2 separate regions of the Homo sapiens genome follow, and region 1 is linked to region 2. The links come from fine-mapping of genetic effects on gene expression. A gene starts in region 2. The other region holds a variant in brackets. All regions are shown on one strand. Distances are from middle to middle. Region 1 has its middle 61 kb from the start of FAM110C. Region 2 holds the start of FAM110C (family with sequence similarity 110 member C).

What was found.
Region 1: its variant is fine-mapped to the expression of FAM110C in whole blood (INTERVAL, PIP 0.98).

The regions. Positions count from the first base shown.
Region 1 is chr2:105,236-110,610 of GRCh38, forward strand. No RefSeq gene overlaps it. Among named protein-coding and RNA genes, the nearest start is that of FAM110C, 61 kb to the left of the region's middle. The variant G/C (reference allele first, on the strand shown) is at 2,907.
Region 2 is chr2:43,211-48,585 of GRCh38, forward strand. It overlaps FAM110C (family with sequence similarity 110 member C), which reads right to left and starts at 3,295. Exons shown (of 2, transcript NM_001077710.3): 1 at 2,230-3,295. The coding sequence starts at 3,175.

The sequences.
Region 1 (5,375 bases), 62 kb after region 2:
TTAGTCTCTATTTCATTTAATTCCGCTCAATTTTATTATTTCTCTTCTTCTAATTTTTGGTTTGGTTTGCTCTTGCTTTTTGAGTTCCTTGAGGTGAATTGTTAGATTGTTAATTTGTAATATTTCTCCTTTTTTGATATAAGAATTTATTGATATAAATGTCCCTTTTAACATTACTTTTCCTTTATCCAACAAGGTTTGCTATGTTGTATTTTCACTTTCATTTGTTTCAAAACATGTTTGATTTTCATCTGAATTTCTTCACTGACCCAATAGCCGTTCAGGAACATGTTGTTGAATTTCCATGTATTTGTATAGTTTCCAAAGGTCCTCTTGGTATTTATTTCTAGTTTTAGTCTCTTGTGGTCTGAGAAAACACTTGATTTAATTTTGAGTTTTAAAAATTTGTTGAGACTTGTTTTGTGGCCTAGAATATAGTCTATTGTGGAGAAGTTTCCATGTGCTGATGGAAAGAATGTATATTCTGCAGTTGTTAGGTAAAATGTTCTGTAAATGTCTGTTAGGTTCATTTGGTCTAAAGTACAGTTTAAATCCAATGTGTCTTTGTTGATTTTTTTTCTACATACTCTGTCTATTGTTGAGAATGGGATATTGAAGTCTTCCATGATTATTTTATTTCACTCTATCTCTCTCTTTAGATCTAGTAATATTTGCTTTGCAAATTTGGGTGTTCCAGTGTTAAGAACATATATATTTAGAATTGTTATATCTTATTGCTGGATTAATCTCTTTTTCATTATATAATGACCTTCTTTGTCTTTTTTTTTAACTGTTCTACCTTTAAAGTCTGTTTTATCTCATATAAACTTAGCTATTTCTTTTTTTCTCCAAAAAGAATGCTTTATTGAGAAATTACCCATTATTATAATAACGTTAAGGAAAAGATACATCAGTTACACCCATGCAACCTGCCTTCTCACTACATCCCACAGGCCGATTTTAATCTTGGACAAAGGGTACCGAGTGCTGGGGTTCCCCGGCCCCTGCATCTTCATTGTGTGTGGAGTGCCATCCCCAAGAGTGTCTGAAAAGTCCAGAGACATGGTTGTCAGAGGACACATGCTCTACCAAACAGAACACCTTGAACTGAGCAGCCCTTCCCCTCCTGGGAGTCACAGAGACATGTACACGACAGGCAAGCCCTCGTAAACTTAGCTATTTCTACTTGCTTTTGGTTTCCACTTGTGTGGAATATCTTTTTCCATCTCTTTATTTTCAGTCTTTATGTGTCTTTACTGATGAAGTGAGTTTCTTGTAAGCAGCACAAAATTGGATCATGCTTTTTAATCCATTCAGCCTTTTTTTAATCTTTTAAGTAGATAATTTAATTCATTTATGTTCAAGGTTATTATTGATATCTTAGGCTTTGTTTCCATCATATTGCTAATTGTTTTCTGGCTGTTTTATATGTTATTTGTTTCTTTTTTTTCTCTTATTGATTATCGTCATGGTTTGGTGGATATCTGTACTGGTACCATTTGAGTCTTTTCTCTTCCTCCTTTGTGTGAATTACTTTACTGGTGAGTTTTATACTTTCATGTGTTTTCATTAGGGTAAATGTTGTTTCACTTTCTAGTTTACAACTCCCTTCAGCATATCTTGTAGGGCCATTCTAGTGGAAACACATTTCCACAGCATTTGCTTGTCTGGGAATGACTTTAGTTCTCCTTCATTTATAAAGGATAATTTGATGAATATAGTATTCTTGACTGGCAGTATTTTTCTTTCAGCACTTGAATATGTCATCCTATTCTCTTTTGATTGAAAAATCCACTGTTATTCTGATGAGGTTTCCGTTATAGGTGACTAGATGTCTTTATCTTCCTGTTTTTAGGATTCACTCTTTATGTTTGATGTTAGATTGTCTGAACATAATGTGCCACGGAGAAGACCTTTTTGCACTTATCTTCCTGGGGATCGCTAAGCCTCCTGCTTCTGAATATCTAAATCTGTTGCTCGACTTGGACAGTTTTATCTATTATTTCATTATATAGGTTTTTAAACCTTTTGTTTGTTTCTTCACCCTCAGGGATCCAAATAATTTGTTATTAATCTTTGTTTTTGAGATGGAGTCTCACTCTATCGCCCAGACTGGAGTGCAGTGGCACATTCTCAGCTCACTGTGACCTCTGCCTACTGGGTTCAAGCTATTTTCATGCCTCAGCCTCCCCAGTAGCTGGAACTACAGGTGTGTGCCACCACTCCTGGATAATTTTTGTATTTTTAGTAGAGACAGGGTTTCACCATGTTGGCCAGGCTGGTCATGAACTCCTGACCTCAGGTGATCCACCCCCTCAGCTTCTCAAAGTGCTGGGATTACAGGCCTGAGCCACCGCGCCCAGCCGGATCCCAATAATTTGTATATTTGTCTTACGTTGTCCCAAATGTCATGAATGCTTTGTTAATTCTTTTGTATTCTCTTTTTTTTTTTAATTGTCTGATTGGAGTATTTAAAAAGATCTGTCTTCAAGTTCTGAGATTCTTTATTCTACCTGATCTAATCTATTGTTGATGCTTTCAAATGTGTTTTTTTTATTTCCTTCAATGAATTCTTCAGTTCCAGAATTTCTATTTGGTTCATTTAAAAATGTCTATTTCTGTGTAAATTTCTCATTTATATTCTGAATTGATTTTCTAATTTCTTTCTATTGTTTTTCAGAATTTTCTTGTATTTTACTGAGTTTCTTTAAAATCATTATTTTGAATTATTTATCTGGGATGTTATGTAAGTTCTTTCTGATTAAGATCTAATGCTGAAAAATTATTGTGTTCCTTTGAAGGAGTCATATTTCCTTGCTTTTCCTGCTTTCTGTGTCCTTATGTTGATATCTGTGCATCTGGCATAATAGTCACCTTCTATTTTTGAATTTGCTTTTATAGGGGAG[G/C]ACTTTTTCCTGAAGATGTATCTCTGGTATCAGTTGGGTAGAGCACTTTGGCTTTGATTCTGGGTGCATCCAGTAGTGTAGTCTCCATATGATTTCTTTGGCTGTAAACAGTGTTAGTAGCATCTGTGATTTCCTTCATGGATTAGAGTGTGGTTATTAATGAAAGCCATAGTGAAGTTGTCCTGGGGATTGAGAGGACACGTGGGCCAGTCTTCAGCCCCAGTGCTGGCAGAGGTGGGCTGAGCATGCCTATCTTTGTGCCAGAGCAGAGTGCACTAGCACTTGTGTTGGAAGTTACTGGCAAGTTGATACTTGGGCCTCCAGGTGGCTTGCTCAGACATGGGTAGTGGCAGTAGTGGCCAGGCAGTTGGACGTGTTTTCAGGCTCCTGGGCACTTGGCGTGGTGTGGTTGATGGCAGTAGCAGTGGTAGGATGATTCCGTGGTTCTCAATCTGTGTGCCTTAATGGTGGTGGTGACTAAAATGGGCTGAGTGGGTCAGTCTCCTGGCCTAAGGTGGCACTTGCAAGTGGGTGCCAGCTGAGGTGGTAGCAGCCAGGAATTTATGCCCAACCTCAAGGCACCAGGAGGAGTACTTAGGTGCCCACAATGGTGGATTGGGTTGGGCAATCCCCAGGACCTCATTGTGTGCTGTCTTGGAGAGAGAGGCAAAGCTGGGCTGGGTGGGCTTGTGATGAAAAATGCACATTCCTCTCATGCTCCAGTTCTGGTGGGGCTTGCCCCTCAACCGTGGCAGAGTAGCCTGAGTCTAGCTCATGTCCTTACCCTGTCTGCAGGAGTCCCCACCCAGCCGATGACCAAATTCCAGCAGCAACTTGTACCTCAGTGGTGTCCCAGTCTGTGTTCCAGTGGCTTTTGCTTCCCAGCACCAGCAGCTACGGCTCATGCCTCATTTGCTTGTTATTCCCAGCTGTGGGAAAGCTTCCAGCCCTCTCCTTAGTTTAAGCAGTGACAGCCATAACACCTCAGATCTGCCACTGCTGGGTCCCACCCAGGACGGCCAGTCTGCCAAAGGCTAGGTTTGAAAATGGCACAATGTTGTAGCCACTTAGGTCTCAGAAAGGGTGCAGGACCCAGCACACCCTCCCTCCTCGGAGCAGGTCTACCTCAGTCTCTTGGCATCTTCCTGTGTTAGTTTCAGGCGTTATGAGGGTTGAGAGGCTCTCCTGTGGCCAGGATTGCACAATTCCATGGTGGGGATGTGGGCCAATGGAAGTCTTTCACTCCCCTTTTCCCTGCATTGGGAAGTCACCTCTTTATACAAATTGTATTATCATATTTCATTTAGTACTGACAGCAAAGTGTCTCCATAAACTAACCTATCAGTCCCATACTTGCCATCTAAGCTGTTTTGACACTTTTTAGGGAATTTTAAAGCAAAACTTCTCCTAACTGTTAACTCCATTTCTTTGTGTTTGGGCACTGTAGGCAGCTTGTGCTACATGTCATTATTGATTCATAGTTCAAATAAATATTAGTCAGTGAGGGCCAAAGGAGAAAGAACTTGATAAAAAGAAGGAAGGGGAAAGGGAGGAAGGAAGGAAGGAAGGAAGGAAGGAACTACTTAGTTCTCTTAATCTAGCATTTTATTTCTGCAAAACAAACATGTTTCTTTTATTATTGTCTTTTGCTTTTGTGTTAACACAGAGTAGTGAAACAAACTAGAAACCTGTGAACTAAACATAAACTGTATATTGTCTGATTTTCTTTGCAAGGTATTTGAATAATGCTGATATGTTTATGGTCCTGTTAAGTAGTGAATTGAACCATCTGGCTATAATTTATTAGGGAAACCATTGTAAGTGTTTGGTTGATGATTTGATTGGCCATATGACATTTTAAGAAGTTTTGTTTTGTTTTCTTTCTTTCTTTATTTTATTTTTTGATTAGAGAGAGTCCACAGAGGAGTAGTATAAACTTTTCAACGTAAAGGTTACTTATGAGCTGACAAAAACCAATGCTAGCTGTGCCAAGATCTAACACAAACAGAAATTCCTACAATCAGAGGAAAGGGTAGAGGCTGTGTTTGTTTAAAAAGCTGATTATACACACATGTAATTGGTGTGTACTTTAAAGTAATGAGTTACATATTGACTGTCAACTTATCCAAATATGGAGAGATTCTCCAATCTTAATCTATCTTGACATTTAGGCTTAGTTTGGAACTGCTAGGAAATTGCAAAACTGATAATTTTTTATTGTTGCCTGAAAGCATATCTGATGTGCTACAGAAATTGGCACCACCTGGTAAAGCAGGCCCAAGATTTAAAATGTTTCTTTTCTGTTCTTAATCATTTATTATGTCTGCATTAACCCAAAGAACCCAATGGTATTAAACACTAAAAAATAAAAATAAAAAATTAATTCCCTCAGTCAAAGACAGGTTTTCAAATTGTTAACTGTTTAAATTTATATGGTAAAAACATCTAGATATCTGATTTTAAAACATT
Region 2 (5,375 bases):
AGTACATTAGTAAAGAAAATCTTTATAGTGCTGGTGACTGCCAATTCCATATAAAAACTGGGGTAGCTTCTGTGGGACTGTACCCCTGCTCTGAGAAATAATGTGAAACTTCTCAGAAGACAGTTGCCATTGTCTCCAGTCTGGAACAAACGGGATTCAGGTGGAGGGAGACATGAGGGGAGGAAGAAGCCCATGAGCCTTTTTCCTGCCTCCATCCTTAGTGCCTTCCCAAACCTGCTCTCACTTTCCCTCTTCCTTCAACTATTTCTCTTTGTCATAAAAGTGAAAGTTCTCACAAGCTAACTAAACTTCTTATATTTTTCATAGGTCCAAGCCTAAAAGGTCTTTAGGATTTAGTCTATGAAGTCAACTAAATTCTCATTCAGGTCACTCTTTTGACATTGGCTAATTCGAGATGGGAACCAGCCTGGGTCTGGAGGGATCAGAGCAGGCTGCTTTTATTTTTATGTTGTCAGGTTTTACTTTGGTTTCATTTGTATGCCACATTATTACCTCCCCACTATTTATACCACCAAGTCTACCTACTGCCTGCACATGCTATGGCTACCTGGAGGGAGCTTATTCATAAATTTACTTCTCACGTACTTCAATAGACAACTTTTTTTTGTTTGTTTTCCATTTCTGGGTTTCAGTCATGCAACACAGATTATTACTACACAGACTAGAAAATGTAGAGGTTGAAAACCATCCGCCTATCTCCCTTCTTTTTATGGACAAAGGACGCCTGGTCTATAGTGCAGGAATCATTTGCTAACATAAGACAGGCCCTTAATTCTGGTTTAGTGCTCTATCCACCAGACACTGTCCCTCCACGGACCTGGCCACTCTCCAAAGCTCCTGCCCTACACATGGTGCCATCATGGAAATACCCTTGCCAGCATTCATTCATCTCAGATCCAAAAGACAATTTGTGAAAACTACAAATTAATGTTTGTTTGCTTTTTAGAACTTTGCCTATATATATTTGTTGGGAACTTAGGCTAGTGGAAAACACAAATCTTCTATAAATTATAAGGAAGAACTTAAGTCCTGAGCCTTCTGAGTTCAAGAAAAAGAATGAATTATCTTCTTCTCATTAATTTTCATGTCTGTACTAAAGTCATAGCCAGAGAAATTATTGGAGATATTTTTAGCTGTCAAACATAGGTGAGCCCTGTGCAAACATCTCTTGGGCAGCCTCCCCCAAACTCTACAGGCTGCCATGCATCTTCACTTAGTTTATCACAATGGCAGAAAATAATTTCATCTCATGATTTTTAAAATTTACTTATAGCAAGTTGTCATTGAAGGGTAAGAGGAAAAAAAAGATGTCGCAAAGTTTAAATTGTTCGTTCTCAAAGACAGCCCTGAAAAGGTTCTTTCTCTTCACTACTTTCCAAGACGCCCATAGGGAAGAGCAGGTAACAGTGAAGACCAGCACTCCTCAGTTCCCCAGTGAAAAGCAAAAAGAGCTCGAGGTCAATCCGGCACTACTGGTTGTCCAAAGGGAGGTTACTTCCTGTAGTGTCATCAGAGGCAAATAAACTATAGACTCTAGTTACAATCTAGTCCAATTTCCCCAGTTTAAAAACCTGAAGCTCTCAAAACAATTTAAATAAAATTTAGCCAAATAAAGATCTTTGTTGCTAAGTGAATGCCAAAGTGCTACAAGATCCTGTGGAGAAGTTCTCACCACTTCAGCACAGGCCTCCAGGAAAGTGCAGGGAGTCTTCCTTTCTGTTCCAGTAACACAGCAGCGCCTACCTAGGGCTGCAGGTGGACTGGTCAGCTCCAATCAAACATCAGGACCGCCCACAGCACAGGTCAATGAACTCAGGAACTAGGGCTCTCAAGCTGTTTTCAGCTCAGGAAAGAATACTAGGGGTGTAAAACTGCTTTCTGGCAGCATTTTGGATTTCTCCTGTTTTCACAATAATAAGCCAAATGGGACATATTAATTTGCAGAATTGCCTTTCCAGGCAGCCAGACGCAGCAGACTCCTAAGGGCCTGGACCAGCAGGTGCCTGGATTGGTACCTTCTGCTCTTCAGCAGCGGGGGCTCAACTCACAAGCCTCTGCGTCAGTCTCTTGGGTCCCTTTCACACTGTAGCTCAAAATCGCACTCAATTCTAAGCAGCTGTAACTGGCCATCGCCCAGCTCGGTCACACTCACCAAGATTCACAGCCCCGCACACGGCCAGCCCCGCCCCCAGCCTTCTGGGCACACACCTCGGGTCCGGCTCTGCTCCTGGCTGGGGGTCTCCTTGGCCTTCTTACAGGTGTACAGCCACTTGATGATGCGGGCGTTCCTCTCGATGACCGAAGTGGTGCTGGGCACCTGCTCTATCAGCTCCTCCTCCTGCAGCCCCTCGTCGTCGCCGCCGCTGTGCCGGGAGAAGCCGCTGCCGGAGGTGGCGACGCTCACGCTGCGCACCTTGAGGGTCACACAGTCCGACCCCGCGGTGAAGTTCTCCCTCCCCAGGGCCTCCACCACCTCGGGGTCCAGGCCGCAGTACTGGAAGAAGGTGTCAGACTCGGCCAAGGCAGCGGAATAGCGGGAGCTGAGGTCCGACTGTGAGCGCTGCAGCCCCCGACGCCTCACCACCCGCGGCTCTGGCCCAGGGGGCGCGGCCGGGACACTGGAGGGCGCCGCGGACCGCGCGGCTGGGGCTGGGGTCTCGGGGATTGCGGGGTCCGCCGCGGGGCCAGGAGTGGTCGGGACCGTCTCCGGGTTCCCGGCCTTGCCCTCGTCTCCCGTCCGGGGCACCGGCGCCTTGTCCTTACCCGGCCCCTGGAAGAGCTTCTTCACCAGGCTTGCCCTGGGGCCGTCGGCGCCCGATCCTCGCACGAATTCGCATTTCTGCCGGTAGATGATCAGCGAGTCCGGTCTCAACGGCTTCCGCGCAATAGCCCTGCGCGCCACCGGGGCCGGGGCGCGGGCCGGGGGCCCAGGGTCGTTCCCCGGGCACTTGATCGCCCCCGGGCCGCTGCCCTCGGAAGCGACGCCCCGGCCAGTCCCCGGCCGACCCCGCACATACTTGGCGCGATCCGCCGCCAGCCTCTCCACTGCGCTCCTGCGCGCCGGCCGCGCGGCGTCGGGGTCCCGGGTAGCCGCGGGGTCCCGGGGAAGGAGCCGCTCGTTCGGGGGCGCGCTCAGGGCCGCCAGGGCGCGCATCTTCGCGGGGAATGGACCGACCGGGGTTCCGGGTCCAGCGGAGACGCGCTCGAGTGGTAGAGCCAGTCAGTCCCAGGGCCGGTTCCGAAGTCCGCGCCGGGTGGGGAACGGCGCCCCAGTGCCCAGCTGCCCAGGCCCGGGGTTGGGGAGAACCGGAGTCTGCACCGATTGGCGAAACTCCCCAGTTCCCGCCCCTCCCGACCTCATCGCCCACACCGACTGGCACCGCCCCCGCCCCCGCCCGGTGCCCCGGCCCTGGCCGCGTCCCCGCATCCCCGCTCGTCCCCGCCCGTCCCCGCCTCCTCACTCCCGCCCGGGCCCGCCTCCCTGGCCGCTCTCCGGGTGCCAGCGCCCGCCCTCACCTCGCGTCCGGGGTCCCGGCCCTCACCTCCTGCCCGGTGCCGTCCCCGCCCCCCCTCACCTTCCGGCGGCGCTGCCAACCGCCTGGAGGACGCTGGGGCGAGCAGGCTCTGAACCCCCACTCGCTCAGCCCCAGATCCCCGAGGTCACTGCTGGACGCAGGCATTTCCGGGGAGGGGGAGCAGAGGGGACGTCCCCCCACCTCCCCCGGGCAGGTGCCTCACATCCTTTGAATTCTTAAAGTGACCTCATCGTGTTTGGAAACTTGACTGTTTAATTTTGTCTACCTGAGCTCATATTCTTATTAACAGAAAGGAATAGGACATAAGAGGAAAGAACACGCAGCGCACGCCAGGATCAGCCTACGTGTTGGGTGGCAAGAACGCAGGGCCTCGGATTGGGTCCGACTCGGTCGCTGGCCGGCAGCGGGCGTGGCCGGGCCCGAGGACCGAGCTAGGACTCTCAGTGGGGCAGGCTGGGGCCCCAGGCGCGGCTCAGTGGATTTGGAAGAAGCCCAGCCAAGTGTCCAGAATCATTGCTATTTTTACGGTAACCGAGGCAACGGGGAAACCACGAGTTCACCAGGCAGTGGATCAGCCTAGGAATGCTAAGAGTCTAAGATAAAATACTTCCCAAACTCCATTATTTCAAAAATTTGGACAAAATACTAAAGTTATCTCTCAGACATGTGAAATGTTCACGTTATCGCGTTGTGAAGACAACTCCGTAACAGGCTGTGCTTTCAGCCTTGTGGTTGAACGCTCCGAGCAGCAGCAGCCCGGAAGGCAGGGAGGGCGACAGGTGCAGATGGGCCCCCAAAGTGGGCACGAACACCTCACCAACGAGGAAGAGGACCGCAGCAGGGTGGTGCTGAGTGGGCCTTGGGGGTCTTTAATCTCCTTGAGCCCCAGCGAAGCAAAATTTCATAGGGATAGTAGCACAACAATAAATCGCCTCCTGAAAGCCAGACCGCCCAGACAGCCTCGTTGGAACATGTAAGACTCATAGGAAAAGGAGTCTAGGCCAATAAAGTAGAGAGTGGGAGAAGAGAAGGAAGGATGCGGGGGTGGGGAGTGAAAGAGAGGGACAGAGATGGAGAAAGGGGGAGCTCCTGGGTTGCCACAGATGGTTTCCTACAGGATGCGGGAGGATGGGGCCTTGAGGTCTAAAGTCCAGCCTGCTCTCTGCTTGGCAAGCCTGTTCCCTAAGTCAGAGGAAAAAACCTTTTTAATTGTGTAGCCCAAAGTGTCTTCTTTTCCTAATTTGCACTACTTCATGGGCAACAGCAGCACTTCTAAGACAGAGAACTGCAAAGTACAGGACCTCTGGAATTTGACCCTGGGTCCACAATTTACCTTTGGACAGGTAACAAACGTTCCAGGTTGTTTTGTCACCTGTAAAAATTTCTGTTTTAAATTTACAAGAAAAGACAATCCCATTAAAAAGCGGACAAAGGACATGAACAGACACTTCTCAAAGGAAGACATTTATGTGGCCAACAAACATATGAAAAAAGCTCAACATCATAGATCATTAGAGAGATGCAAATCAAAGCCAATGAAATACCATCTCACGCAAGTCAGAATGGCTGTTATAAAAAGTCAAGAAACAACAGATGCTAGAGAGGCTGCAGACAAATAGGAACGTTTTCACACATTGATGGGAATGTAAATTAGTTCAACTACTGTGGAAGACAGTGTGACAATTACTCAAAGACCTAGAACCAGAAATATCATTTGACCCAGCAATACCATTACTGAGTATACACCCAAAGAAATACAAATTATTGTCTTATGAAGATACATGCACACATATGTTCACTGCAGCACTACTCACAATG